Linked DNA regions of Homo sapiens. Changing the gene in region 2 together with the main gene of any one other region gives a genetic interaction. Each region holds a gene or a part of one and is shown on either strand. Other genes may lie near its edges.

The links.
Region 1: of HDAC7 (region 2) and AKAP12, a change in one rescues a mutant of the other (synthetic rescue), as found in Homo sapiens cells (one study listed by BioGRID).

What each region holds. Positions count from the first base shown.
Region 1 is NC_000006.12:151,234,973-151,242,972, forward strand, and holds the start of AKAP12 (A-kinase anchor protein 12), read left to right. Parts: upstream 1-4,994; 5' UTR 4,995-5,087; intron 5,088-5,411; 5' UTR 5,412-5,590; coding exon 5,591-5,752; intron 5,753-8,000. UniProt on the Homo sapiens protein: Anchoring protein that mediates the subcellular compartmentation of protein kinase A (PKA) and protein kinase C (PKC).
Region 2 is NC_000012.12:47,816,887-47,823,890, reverse strand, and holds the start of HDAC7 (histone deacetylase 7), read left to right. Parts: upstream 1-3,987; 5' UTR 3,988-4,105; coding exon 4,106-4,124; intron 4,125-7,004. UniProt on the Homo sapiens protein: Responsible for the deacetylation of lysine residues on the N-terminal part of the core histones (H2A, H2B, H3 and H4).

The sequences.
Region 1 (8,000 bases), on a different chromosome or scaffold from region 2:
AATCATTTGGGCATGTTTATATAGGTTTATTGCTATTGTTATGATTTTAAAAGCATTTAGCAAGCTAACTTAAAGGAATACAAAATAAACATTAGATCAGGTTATCCACCTTTCCTTTGTGTATTGCTAGTTGAGATGTTTATCAATTCACAACCTAATCTTTTTTTCTTTTTTATTTTTTTTGAGACAGAGTCTTACTCTTTCGCCCAGGCTGGAGTGCAGTGGCGCGATCTTGGCTCACTGCAACCTCCATCTCCCAGGTTCAAGCAATTCTCCTGCCTCAGCCTCCCAAGTAGCTGGGATTACAGGCGCACACCACCACGCTTGGCTAATTTTTGTATCTTTTTAAAGTAGAGACGGGGTTTCACCATGTTGGCCAGGCTGGTCTCAAACTCCTGACCTCAGGTGATCCACCCGCCTCCGCCTCCCAAAGTGCTGGGATTATAGATGTGAGCCACCGCACCAGGCCACAAAGGGATTTAAGTTGGTAGAGGAACATAAAATCTACAGTTCACATCGTATAATATATTGTATAATAGCTTTGTTTTGAGTGCGCAATGTTGACTTATTGAAGCAAAGTTTCCAACTTTGAAAAGTCCTCTGCATTTTGCCTGGCACTCAACTCAGTGAAAGTTTATTTAATTAATATGTGAAAAATATATATTTTAATGTTGGATACTTATAGGGTCCTTTGTAGAAGGGATTTGAAATTGTGAGGATTACAGCCACTTGATCTACCCTGGAATGTAGACACCTTCCACATACCTTCTGGTATCTTCTAACAGTGCATCCTGAGAAATTCTTTCTCCATATTGGACACATCATTTACTCTATCTTGGTTCCAGTCCCTCCTTTGTTACTTGAGAGTAATCCTGAATTTGAGTCAGGCACCAATCTTAAACCTTGGTAAATGAAACTGAGATCCAAATAGCTGGCTTTATACTTAACTCCAAAGCAATAAATTCCTTAAGAGTTACAAGGATAGCATTTGCCTATATATATATACGTGATGTATGTCTACAAGCGGCTGAGCTTTAAACTTCATCTGTAAATTGAACATTTTCTGTAGCTTCCATATGAATTTTAGATTATTAAGTACTCATGAATTGAATACAACTGTTAATTCTTCTAGTTTATAATTAGCAAATTATAATTAATGCTCTAAAATAATCCGTCTCAAATCCTCACATAGAAAGTAAAATTCAAATAATTTACTCACAGTTTCTTCCATAGACTTCTCAACAGGGTAATAACATTATTCTTGGTTATTTATTTTCCAGGCCATGTAAATGTTAATATTCTTATTTGTAAAAAGTAAAATCATATCTTAAGAGATGCATGCGCACATTCTAGTACTCTCTATTCTGCCTGAAACAGCTCTGTGATAAGGGAGTATTAAGAATAACAAATTCACACGAGCACAAGATAGAGTGGGAATTAGGTTCTTAGATGACTGGATATCTCTGTGGGAACAACTGGTTTAGAAAGAAGTAGGTGTTTTATCCAGGGAAAACAAAGAAGTTATAATCAAGAGAGAAGCAGTTTCAAAGGTGAAGGTGAAGAGTTGCCAGTCTCAGCGAAGGCTTTGTAACTAGAGAATGAATCTTTAGGGTAGAGTTAACGGTAGATTTTAAACTGTTTTAATAATTAAAATTATTATTGCACTTTGAAGGGGGTGTCTGAACTCAGTTGTAAAATGTTTGACATTTGTGAATTCCTTTAATGTTATATTTGAAACTGTTTTGGTGCATGCACAAGGTGCCCAACTATGACTCTACATTTTATTGTTAAACCTCATGTGACCCGTCTTTCTGGAGAAGTATGTGTGCGAAGTACAGGTTCAGCCTGCTACACAGGCAACATGTATTTGTTTTTGAGAAATCTCAAACTGTGTTTATGAGAGAATTAACCCTCTCAGGGAAACAGCTCTACCAACGACTGCCCCATGGGAGAGGATGTGTGGGGACACCTGCATCCTGCTATTTGGAGAAAAATTGAGCTGCTGGTGAGACATTGAACCAACAGCCTTGGACTGAGAAGTGAAAAATAGAGAACACCTGCCTCCCCTCTACTCTGATGCCAATCCAAGCAATTCCGAAGGCATCTTGGAAGCCCTAGAAAAGAAAACCTCAGTGACTCGATTTAGAACCTTGGAAACTAGAGTGGTAACTTTGTGCTTGGCACATAATAGGTACTTGATAGAAATTTATTGAAAGAAAGAAAGAGAAGAAGGAAAGAAAGAAAAAGAAAGAAAGAACAGAGAAGAAGGAAAGAAAGAAAAAGAAAGAAAGAAAGAAAAGTAAAAAAAGTAACAAACTTTGTAGCATTCTGAAGCACTAAGTGGCATACCCAAAAGGTTGGGCTATTTCATCGCTAGAGGTCATTAATAACACAACCACTTTTCTTTTCTTCTCTTTTTTTTTTTTGAGACAGGGTCTCACTATGTCATCCAGGCTGCAGTCTGGAACTCCTGGGCTCAAGTGATCCTCCCGCCTCAGCCTCCCAAGTAGCTAGGACTACAGGCATGCACCACCACTCCTGGCTAAATTTTTTTTTATTTTTTGTAGAGATGGGAGTTTCACTGTGTTGCCCAGGCTGGTCTTGAACCCCTGGTGTCAAGCAATCCTTCCACTTCAACCTCCCAAAGTGCTGGGATTACAGGCGTGAGCCACCGCGCCCAGCGCAATGATTTTACTTTTTACAAATAAGAGTATGAACATTTACATGGCCTGGAAAATAAACAAAAAGCAAGTAACTGCTAATCTAAGCAGATGCTGATATCTTCCTCAGCACGTAGGTTGTACACTGTTGGCTTGACCCTGCAATCCTTTCTGAAAATTTAAAGGGTAGTAGATGTGAAAAGCTTTGCTAAGAATTTCCCAGGAACAAAGTAAATATAATCTCACAGAATGTGAAAATGTTGATAGTATTTGTGCTACTTACTGATACATTTTCAAATGTGCTGACGTTAATCATTCTCAAATAGTTTTTTTTTTCTTCTTCTTTTTTTTTTTTTGGGACGGAGTCTTAATCTGTCATCCAGGCTGGCGTGCAATGGCATGATCTCAGCTCACTGCAACCTCCACCTCCCAGGTTCAAGCAGTTCTCGTGTCTTGGCCTCCTGAGTAGCTGGGATTACAGACACGCGCCACCATGCCTGGCTAATTTTTGTACTTTTAGTAGAGACGGGGTTTCACCATGTTGCCCAGGCTGGTCTTGAACTACTGTCCTCAGGTGATCCACCCACCTCGGCCTCCCAAAGTGCTGGGATTACAGGTGTAAGCCACCACACCTGGCCTCAAGTAGGTTTTAACAGTGCTTTTTGCTCTTAAAATCCTAAGTGAGGTCCAAATGCCACGTTTCAGTAACACCTCTGAGAGGAGAGAACACAGTTGATTGAAAGGGAAGGGGAGTGCCATGCGGTGGTGAAGCGTGGACCCTGAAAGCAGATGCCAGTTGGACTTCCTGCTCTTCCAACTCCTGGCTGTGAAACCTGAAGCACACAATTTAATTTCTCCGGGCCTACTCCTCCCCCTCCTGCCAATGGTAAAATGAGAATAATACTATCTATCCCATGGGGTTATTGTAAAGATTATTATGTAAAGTGCATTGAACAGTGCCTGGTACAGAGTAAGAATTCTAATGTTTCCTAAATAGTCAAAATTTAAGTCAAAATGGGGGAAATGTGTATAAATTCCTAAAACTAAGCATTTTGCAAATATACTGTTTCTTAAGAGATAAACTCCAGAGAAATTGGCCTTCGTGTAGTCCTTTAAATAAAAATAATTAATTCAGAAAACAGGCCCAGTGTGGTGGTTCACACCTATAATCCCAGCACTTTGAGAGGCCAAGGCAGGAGGATCGCTTGAGCTCAGGAGTTCAACACTAGCCTGGGCAACACAGCGAGACCTTGTCTCAAAAAAAGAAAAAGAAAAAAAATTAATTCAGAAAACAAATTTGATGGTGAGTAACTAACCTATGGTTCCCAGGGTACCATTCGATTCATGCAATTCATTAGGCATGAAACATCCTAGTGCTGAACTACTGCTTACACCCTTTCTACAAAATTGTACTAAATCTGAGTATGAGATATTTATCTGGAATTTGGTGTGAATATTCCGAAAGTTTCTTCCTTCTTTCTTTCTTTTTTTTTTTTGACAGAATCTTGCTCTGTCGACTAGGATGGAGTGCAGAGGCACAGTCATAGCTCACTGCAGCCTCGAATTCCTGGGCTGAAGTCATCCTTCTACCCCAGCGTCCCCAGCCTCCTGAGTAGCTAGGACTACAGGTGCACCACTGCGCCTGGCTAATTTTTTTATTTTTTGTAGAGACAAGGTCTCGCTATGTTAACCAGGCTGGTTTCTTCATTCTTAATGGAGATTCAAAGTATTTGTGAAAACTGGGGCACTCGGTTGCTAGTTACAACTGGAATAAATTTTGTCTTTCAGCCCCAAAGCCTTAATGCTTTGCGCCAAGCAATCCAGCTACAAATTTAATTTAGTTCAAATACTTATTGATTGGCTGCCATGCTCATGTAATACATATTATATTCAAGGGTCGGAAATGAAAGGATGCAAGCCACTTGTGCTGGTATTATTTAAAGTCTTCATCTTTTGAGAAAGGCTGACGGCAAAGGAACAGATCTATGCTGTCATGTGTCGGCATCGCGCGGAGCAGAGGTGGCCTGGATGGGTAACTTCCAGCACAGGCCCTCAAAGAAGGACGGGCACATTTCCGGTAACAGCCTCATTTCCCCCCGTTCCCCGGGGGAAGGGGGGCGGCTAGCACTGCTGATGGCATCGCCTGACATCACTTGTTCCGGAGGATAGGAGAGCGTGGGCCTGCGTGGCCCACCTCATCCGTGGCCTGACTGCGTTAACCTCTCGGTTCCCTGCTCTTGCCACGTGAGGTGCCCAAATATGGTCGGACTCAGGAGGAGCCAGGGAGCGCTTGCCTTTCTCCTGCTAATGGGGAGGAGGCTGGAACAAATGTTTGGAGTTAAACACAATCTGCAGGAAAGCAAATGGGGACTCGGACTCGCTCCTGGGCGAGCTGAAAGTCGGCTGCAGCAGAAGCTCCTGCCTTGGGTGATCCATCATTTAATAAACCCCAGAGAATCCAGTGTCCCCGGCAGGCTTTTTGCTCCCCTGCTCTCTTGCCTTCTGAGGCCCTGGGTCGTCCCCGCAGCTCTAGTCGCCCTGTTAGAAACGGGAGGCGCCCGAGGGCCGGGTGGGCGGCTGCCTGGACCTGGGCTGGCGCGTCGCAGCGCCTCTGGTCCCGGCAGCCTGGGGGCAGATGCTGCTGCAGGGCGTGTCTGGGGCTGTGCTCATGTGATGAAGCGAGGGAAAAACCGGGGGGAGGGGGGCGGAGGCTAAGAGGTGGCCTTTTTTTTTTTTTCCTTTTCTTTTAAGGAGTTTGCCGCGAGCGCGTCTCCTTCATTCGCAGGCTGGGCGCGTTCGCAGTCGGCTGGCGGCGAAGGAAGGCGCTCTCGGGACCTCGCGGGCGCGCGTCTTTTGGCTCTTGCCCCTGTCCCTGCGGCTTGGGGAAGGCGTAACCCGGCGGCTAGGCGCGGGAGAAGTGCGGAGGAGCCATGGGCGCCGGGAGCTCCACCGAGCAGCGCAGCCCGGAGCAGCCGCCCGAGGGGAGCTCCACGCCGGCTGAGCCCGAGCCCAGCGGCGGCGGCCCCTCGGCCGAGGCGGCGCCAGACACCACCGCGGACCCCGCCATCGCTGCCTCGGACCCCGCCACCAAGGTACGGGCGTGCCGGGCCACCTGCGCCGGGAGGCGCGGGTCTTTGGGGGTGGGGGTGGGGGTGGGGGGGTCCCTCCGATTTCCGCCGAGAGAACTTCCCAGCCCATCCAGCCGCATCTGCAAACTCAGGAGTGCGAACCCCTCTTTGGAGGCTTTTCAGGGTCTTTCGCGCCGGGGCGGGGCCAGAGCAGCGGCGAGCGCGGCGGGGGGCTTGCATCTTTGTCGCGGGTCTCCAGGGGAGGCGACTGCGCCATGCGCAATAATAAAACCCGCGCCCTGCCCACGGCGGCTGAGCCTTTCTGCGCACTCTTCCGGTGGGAGCCATGCAGCCCGAGGCGGAGGAGCTGCGCGGAGGGGGATCCGTGGAGAATGGACCCCGGGCCGGGCCTCCGGAGCTCCGAGATGCGGAAAGTCAGCTGTGAGGCCAGGACTCGTGGTGGAGCCCGCCGGGGAGCCCAGCCACCCTCGGGTTCCCCGTCGCGTACCGCCCTGGATGCCAGCGGTGCCTGGAGCGAGCGGGTTTGGTACCCAGTCCTCCTGCGGCAGCGGCCCGAGCAGGCACCGCCTTCCCGAGGCAGAGAAAGCCTGGGGTGTAGCTCGCTCAGAGCCAGGAAAAACCTGGGCAGGCGCTGCGTTTCCAGAAGGAATGACAGGTTTCGCAAACCAGCCAGCGCCCTCGCGTTCGCTCAGCGCTTTGCCTGCAGACTCAGTTGGCCAAACACACGCTAGAGTGGCTAGAAGTTCTCAAAGGATGGGGTCAGTGTAACGAGCATTCCGGGTACTCTTCCCTGGACGCAGTGCTGAAACGACTGCATTTTATCGGCTTCAGTCTTCAAGGCTGGAATATTTCTTGTGGGCCAGGACAGCCGCCAAGACTGTGGCTTGTTCTGGTCGTGGTATTTTAGATCTATTTTCCAGCGCATGTGTTCATTAGCAAGGCTTCACTCTACTGATTTTGTGATACCCTTGTATCACAAAGGTACCCTTGTGATACCTTGTAGAAAGATGTGGATAACCATGTTTAATAGTTAAATTTGCGGTATGTCAAATTTGAGGATAGAGTACGTGAGTTATCGCAGGAGGTGTAGATGTTTACAATATGCAAAAAAAAAAAAAAAAAGGAACCTACAACCATGACCTAATTGCCTTGACCTCCTTAGCTGCCCTAGTCTCTTTTGGGCTGAGAGACTGCTGTTAATAATATAGTTTTTACCGCCAGTCTTTGATTCATAACTACTTGTAAAATCCATGGTCCCTAGATATTAAGTACTAACTGTGTCTCTGTGCTATGTAGGTTTTTCTAAGAGATGCTTAAGCTTCTGGCCTGAGGAATGTACTGTCCTTTTGAGATTCAAGTCGCATTTTAATACTTACTGTATGCACATAATGTTTTGATGCCAGCTACTGTCAAAGTGGCTCTGTAACCAGTGGTCAGAGTCTAGCGATGAAAATAATTTTAAGGTATAATTGCTAAAAACTTGCAGTTGGGTGACATTCCCCCCACCGCCCCGGCTTTTATACTCCTTCAGATCTTACTAACTGTTCACCCTGAAATATGGGATTTAATCCCTTCCCAGTAAACTTGAATTTGTTTATTTAAAAATATTCCTTCCATTCTCTTTTTCCGTCTTCCATAACCTTATCCTTTTCCTCTTTCCAAGTTGCCAACCGTCTTGAAGCAACCAAACAACCTCCTTTTAAAAAATCACTTAAATGACATCCAGAATATCATTGAACTTGTTGGCATAATGCCCAGTTATCAATTTGGAGACAAATCAGTGCACTTACATGTATCCTTGGAATGTATTTAGTTTTCATTTGAACTAGCCAAATTTATCACTCAGGCTTTGAACACAAATGTCTTTTCAAAAGGACTCCCCAATTAAGAATGACTCAGCACCATGGCCCTTGCCTCCCCTCTTCTTGTTAAGCTCCAATTCCTGACCTCCAAGTAATCCCATCTCCCACTCTAGGCTCCGTGGCACCATGGACCCGTCCCAGCAGTTTTCACATGTGTGGGTTTAGTGTTCTTGCTGTTGTGAATACTTCGCAGGGGCAGGGAACACGCCTGGTTGTGCCGACCAACGGTGTTCCTTCATGCGTGCCATGTTGCCTGGCACAGAGGCAGCTCTCAGGAATACTTGTGGAAAGAGGAAGGGGTGATATTGGCTCCTTGGTTTTGATTGGAAAATATCAAGTTGGAGAATACCTTGACCTATCTGATTTTACTACAATTTAACCCTTGATCA
Region 2 (7,004 bases):
GCACAGGCTCTGAATCAGACATACTTGGGATTAAGTAACTTACTGGCTCTGTGGCCTTGGGCAGATCATTTTGTCTTTCTGAGTTTTACTTTGCTCATGGAAACAATGGGGATAATAATGAGATTTAAGTGAAAGGGCTTTGAACAGCGTGCGATATGTAGAACATGCTCAATAAATCCTAAATTATCTTTCCTTCCTTCTTTTTCTTCCACTCCTTCCTTCCCTCTCTCCTTCCCTCTCTCCTTCCCTCCCTCCTTCCTTTCCTTCCTTCCTTCCTTTTTTTCCTTTTCTTCCTTCCTTTCTTCTTTCCTTCCTTTCTCCCTTCTTCCTTTTTTTCCTTTTCTTCCTTCCTTTCTTCTTTCCTTCCCGTACTTCTTATATCTCTTATGTCTGGTCCCATGAAACCCTTTATTTGGAGTTGGGGACCTAATCTCCCTTACTAATCTGCAAGTCCCAAACCCTGAGAATTGGCATTTGATTCCAGATCCAGAAACTGAAATGCAAGATCCAAACTAACCCAATACAATGAGTGTCCACTGAGATCTCACTGAACTGAGGCCTTGGGGAAGGAGCACTTTCTGGTTGGCTTTGTGCGAAGTGTGTGAGGATAAGTGCAGGCTGGCGGAGGAATTGTGGCTATGGCCCCCACATCTAGAAGGTTGGGAACGGAGGGTATCAGAAAGTTTGGATAATTTTCTGGGGCTTTAAATCCTGGCACAAAGTAGGCACCCAATAATATTTGTTGAATGAATGAATGGCCCTGTCACTTACTAGTTGTGCAACTTTGATCAGGTTTCTTAACCATAAAGGCCATGCTTTACTCATGAGCATAACAAGGATTATTGTTAAGAATAAATGATCTAATGTTTGTCCAGGGGATAGCAAGGACTGCTACGCAGTAAATGGTAAACAGTAGCTAACTAAGGAAAGAAGGAGAGGAAAAGGAGAAGAGAAGGTCAAGTAGGCCCAGAGTCCCAAAGGGAAGCAGATTGGGGTGCCCTCAGGCTTTGTGCTGGCCGGAGACTCTAGGGAAGGCTCAGGAAGCCAAGGCACGTCTTTTGGGGCCAGTCTCTTCTGCTAGGTGTTCAGCTGAGAAAGCTATGAGAGGCCTGGACTCAAGAGCTTTTTAAAAAAAGGCTCCCCACGGTAACCAGGCTAGAAGAGAGAGAGGTAGCTTGCATTTCTCTGTCTCATGTCTCTAAGGTTCTTGGAGGCTTTCTAATTTATCCTGGTAGGGGACATGTGACTTAGAAACTGGCTTAGGACTCTGCCATGAGGCGGGGTCTGGTAAGTAAATCTGGCAGGGGAAGGAGAGACACAGTCCAGCTTTCCCAGATGCAGGTTGCACATGCTGTCTTTTTCTCTGACTATATGTTGGAGGCAGTGAGTCCTGGTGTGTAGAAAGCCACATGTTGGGCACTGTGTGGACAGACAGGCAGGGAGATAGCCTCTTAATTCAGATCACTCAAAACTCAGTGATGAGTTTAAAAAGAGAAAGAAGACTCACAAATAAATGTATGCACAATGCACATGGTAGAAATGAGCATAAAAGGGCCTGGCTTTACTACAGAAATAGCTACAGAAAAGCTACGGATATGTGTGTGTTGGGGGTTGGGATCAATTGTGGAGCTAGACAAGGGAGATAGCAGGCATGTCGCTGGGGGTCTGCAGTAACCAAGCAGTTTTTCTGGAGTCTGTGGACACCAAAGAGGCATTTGGAAGGAGGATGATCTGGCTTGGAATTGAGGGCTGGGGATGACATACCTAAGGTGGAACAGCATGTGTCTTGGAGAGTCAGCATGGGTAGTTATGGGGTGAAAGAATGTACTGTAGGTGTCCAGCTGGAGAAGGGTTCTTGAAAGTCATGAACATCTGTCCCAATTCAACAAATAACTCACATCAAGTTTGAATTCTGTGCAAGACACTACAAGAAATGCACCCATGACCAAGGCAGTAGCTGGACTCAGGGATATCCACTCTTGAATGCTCTTGGAAGGAAGAGAGTTGAGACAAGTAGACTAGGTGGGCGAAGGTCAATGTATAAAGACCACACAGTTCAGGGAAGAATTCCTCTTGGCTATGGGAATCCGGGAAAGCCTCCCGGAGAAAGTGGTATGCCACTTTCTTTTTCTTCCAGTCCTTCCTTCCTTCCTTCCTTCCTTCCCTCCCTCCCTCCCTCCCACTAGATAGGGAGTGGGTCTTGAGGATTGGAAAGATTTCAACAGAAGGAGAAAGGGGCTGGGAGGACATTTCTTTTGGAGGCAGCATGATGAGCGAAGGCAAGGGAGTGTGGAAGCGTGAGGACAGGATGGGAAGCAGCTAGCAGCCCAGTCTGGCAGAAATAATGATAGTAATAATAGTGACTAACACTACTGAGCCCTAAGTACCAGGAGGCACTGGGCAGGGATGTGTATGGAGTGTGGTGCCAGGTTGTAGGAGGACTTGAATGCCAGGAAAGGCTTTTGGGAGGGTAAGTTAACAAGCGCAGAGGGGTTGGATCTGCCTGCCGAAGGAGAACTGGGACAAGGAAAGGGGCTGAAGTAAGAAGTCCCACGCTGAATATGCCGGTAGCAACAGATAGTGAGTCCCGAGCTGTGCCTGAGGGAAGGGAATAGAATCTATGGTTTGAAGTTCACCGCCAGCATGGCCAAGCCCTCCTAGGCCACTGTGGGCTCTTGCTTCCAATCAGACATGACTCCACCTCTGGGGCTGCCTCAATTTTTCCTTCTCTGGATTCTTGGGGTTTCTTAGGATTGCGGGAGATAGAATGGGGTCAGGGGAAGCTGCTCCTTGGTTTACAATGGTGGCGCCTCACGCTGCAGAGAGCCCAGTGTTCCTGCGTGGTGGACCTCTCCCCTTCCTAGGAGCAGCTCCAGATTGCTGGAGGCAGACACGGCTGACCGGCTAGCCCAGGAAGCACAATGGCGAGGTCCTTAGCCCCTGACCCCTGAATCTGACCTTCTCTCCAGCTAAAAGCGGAGGGAGAGGCAGGGAGGGCCACTGCCTAAAGCCGGCCCTGAGCTGAGTTTATTAGCTGAGGGAGGGCTGGAGGCGGCTGCATTCCGACTCACAGACTGGAACATTTCTGTGATCCGCTGTAATGCACTGGGGGACACTGGGCACATTGCTGAAGTTTGACTCATAGGGACCGGGAGGGGGAAAGAGGGGGGTTGTGGAGGGAGAGGAATGGGAGGAAGAGAGGAAGAGGAGAGGAGGGAAGGAAGTCCCTTGAGAAATTTCTTTAAAAAAAGAAAACTTTCAAAATCTGCACCACCCCCACACCCTTTTTCTTTTAATAGGAACAGGCTGGACCCTTCCGTTCCCCTCAGCAGGCATGGTGTGTGTGTGGGGGTGCCAGTGGGGGAGGGCTGGGCAGTGATTCAAATCAGATCCTGGAACTTTCCTGAGGCAAGTCGTGCTTATGTGTGTGTGTGTGTGGTGGGGGGTGTCCGTCTGGGATTCCTTGTATGGGACATGGGACACCACGCGTGTCCCACTGTGCCCGCGTGTGGCTGCGTGCTTGTGGGCTGTACGGGTATGTAGTGTGTGCACGGGGGTCCACCCCGAAGCCCCAGTGTGTGCTGTGTAAATGATTCTGCCCCTTGTAAACATGGATGCGTGCTCGTGTACGTTGTGTATGCGAGGGTGCGTGCGCCCAGGTAGCTGGGTTTCCGGGAATTGTGCACGGCTCGGAGCGCCTCGCGGCGGCTGGGGCTCGGAGCCGCGGCCGGCGTTCCGGGTTCGGCGCTGCCTCCCCGGCAGTGCGCCGCGCCCCGCCGCGATCTGGCCGCGCGCGGTGTCTGCGGCCCGCCTGTGCGCCGCGCGGTGCAGTGTCTGCCGGGGTGGTGTGTCCCAGGGCCGCGAGCGCCTGCCCCCTCCCTCCCCTCCCCCTTGGCCCGCTCTCAGACTCAGATAAAGCATTTCCTTCCATTGTCATCCTACCCGGCCGGCCGGGCTGCCAGGGCCCTCCCCCTCCCGGCCCCCTCCCTTCCTCTCGCCGTCTCACAGTCGCTCTGCAGCCTCCGGCGACTGGGGGGATGTGAGGCCGGCGCCCCAGCCCCCCGCCCCGCCATGAGCCCCCCGCTCTGAGGGCCCCGGCCCCTGGATGCACAGCCCCGGCGCTGGTGAGTACTGGGCGGCCGCCCCCCGCCCCGCCCTGCGCGCGGCACCCAGCGTCGCCCGCCCAGGCTCGGCCTCCGGCCCTGGCCCCGGCTCCGGCTCCGGCTCCGGCTCGGGCTCCCGCCAGCCCCGCGGGCCCAGCCCGGCTTGCGCCCCCCGACCGCGCCTGTCCCGCCCGGCTCCGCGGGGCTCTGGCAGGCTCCGGGTCGGAGCTGGTTCCGGGGGCCGGAGGGCTCGGGCCTCCCGCGGGGCGCCCACATCCGCCCGCCCCGGGGCAGCTACAGGCCCAAGGGAGGGAGTTGGAGGCCCCGGCCGCCGGTGTGCGGGCCCCACGTCCCATCACCCCTGTTCCCGGGGAGGACGAGCCGAGGGACCGGGGAGGGAGGGACGGCCGCGGTGGCCCGGCGAGGGGGCGGTGCTCCGGGGCGGAAGGTTTGGAAGCGCGAGGGCAAAGGGCAGGACCCACTGAGTTGGGGCTGGGCTTTGTGGGGCTGGACATCAGCGCCCCCATCCCGTGGAGCCGGGCAGGGCCCTACTCAGATCCTTCGGCGGGGAAAGAGGTCCCTTGGAGGGGTCTCTGGCTGGGAGGTTTCTCTGAGCATTGCCCCCCATCCTTGCTCACCCATCAGGGTGAAGAGACACCTGTGCCCTGGTGAGCTGTGGAGGTCAATGCCGGCAGCGGCGCGGGAAGCGGGGCGCCGCAGGCTGTGTGAGGGGTGGGGGACAGGATGTGCACCCCCCAGGCCTGGGGTCTGTTGGTGTTGGGGAGTGTGAGAGCAGGCGGCAAATTTGGCGGATGGGCTGGGTTCCCACGACCAGAGTTTCTAGGCCTGTGGGCCAGGAGAGAGCCCTCTGGGGCCCGCAGGCCACCCAGTGCCCCACCCCCATTGCTTCCCGCTGTGGCTGCCCGTTTGGGTCTGACCTCCCCAGCCACGGCTGCTCCTCACTCCTTCTCCCCGCTGGCTGTCTTGCGCACCCAAAGGCCTCCCCCTGCATCTGGACACTGGCTGTCTCGCTGCCAACGCTCCCTGCCCACTCCCCTAGGCAACATCTGCCTGAGGCCCAGCTCTGCCTGCCGCTTTCTAGGGTGAGAATGGGGCATCGGCCCTCAGCGGCCCTGCTGGGAGCTCAAGATCAACTTCTCAGCCTGTTCCCTGGACTTGCATCTGGACCTGTGGGACCTTCCTCAGGACCCCTATTCAGCTATAGGGCTGGCAGGAGACTGTGACTCAGGTCCCTGCCCTCCAATGAGACGCTTTGGCGGCCCTTTCCCCCTCCCAGGACTCCATAGGCTGCTAGGCTGCCGCTACCCATGGGTTATTAAGTCATTTTCTTCTTCTCTGCAGTCATTTCTGAGGGAAACTAAGGCACAGAGTAGTCCCAGTGAGTGGTACCCAGCCCAGTGAACCTAGACTGGAACCAGGTCTTGGACCTATTGGGACTGGTCCTCTGCCTTTAGTCCCCTGATGTCCCTCCTTGCCCAGCAGGGCCAGGCTCAGAGGCAAGCTCAGAGCTGCCTCCTGATGTTGCACCTGGAATGGTCCTGGTGCAGTGTTCTCCAGAGGCCTCTGTGTCCCTTATTCGGCGGGTGTCTCTGTGGCCACCGGGTCTTACAGTGGGTTTTGGGGCAGGGAAGTTTGCATGTCTAAGCTGTTCACTCCACTTTGACACTGAAGTTCAGTTTCCCCATCAGTAAAATGGGGAGAAAATTCCAAGCACACTTCTCAGAGCAGAGCAGAAGAGGTTGACTATGGAGAGGAGAATGAAGGTACTGTGCTATTATCCACCCCCTCCAGTTTGCTTAGGGATAATGGACCTCAGCTTTAGTCCTTGGTGGCCTCTTGGCATGGAAGCTGGAACTTTCTCAATTCTGATATAAAACCCTTGAGCAAGAGAGAAACTCATGTGTGATGGGGTAGGGAGTGGGGACCCTCTGGTAGCTGTGGGCAAGCATGCCCAAGGACTTGGAAGACAGAAGCCTGTGGAACCCCATCTCCTCTTTGCCTTCTTTCTCCTGGCCTTTCATTAAGGGCTGGTAATTTTGAAGTCGGCAGGGGCCTGAGAGAAGGTGAGCTAATGCAAGGCCCAGGGTCACACAGCCAGGGAATGGCAGGCGGAGGGGGCCAGAACCAGGCCTTCTCACTCTGCCAGTGCCCATTCTGCTGGCCCACCCTCCACAGCTTGGCTCTCCCTGGCCTGCCCTCAGTTAGACTTCGGACTGAGGCCTCCAGTGGGGTGTGGGGTATTGCTGGAAGCAGGGCCTGAATAAAGTCTGGGGCTAGCGGGAGGGCATCTGTCCTCCCGGAGGCTCCCAGGACTGTGCATTTGTGTGTGTTGGATTTGTTCACTAGATGGGGCACTTCCTTTGGGGCAGGAAGCTTTGATTTCCTGTGGTGATGGTGAGGAGGGGTTGGTAAGGATTAGGAGTGGGGGGCTCAGCTCTGGGCCATCCTCGATGTTGTTGTTTGGAACCACGGAGGGGCAGAGTTTCTGCTTAAGACTGCTTCTCCCAGCTCTGGGGAGGCAGGAAGGAGAGCCTTGGTGAGGAGGCCCAGGCCAAGGCTGGAGAAGGAGGCTGTGAGAGCAGTGAGCTGGGGGTGGGCAACACAGCAGGAAGCCCGGTCAGCAGGTGACCCTGCCGGGTATTGTGTTTCCTTGTAATATTTTCCCCCTGTTTCTGTGGTAACCTTCCCTGGAGGCCCCAGGCCTTAGGGCTACAGGAAGGTGCCCCCAGACAGCCCTTTCCTTAGAGGCCTGAGTATTAGGAGGAGTCCCCAGATCTAGCCACCTCCCTAACCCTTTTGGCTCCCTAGGATCAGGGGCCTGGGAATCTAGGCGAGTGGCCTGAGTGAGCATGGACTCGCGGGCTGGGGGAAGGCCCTTTG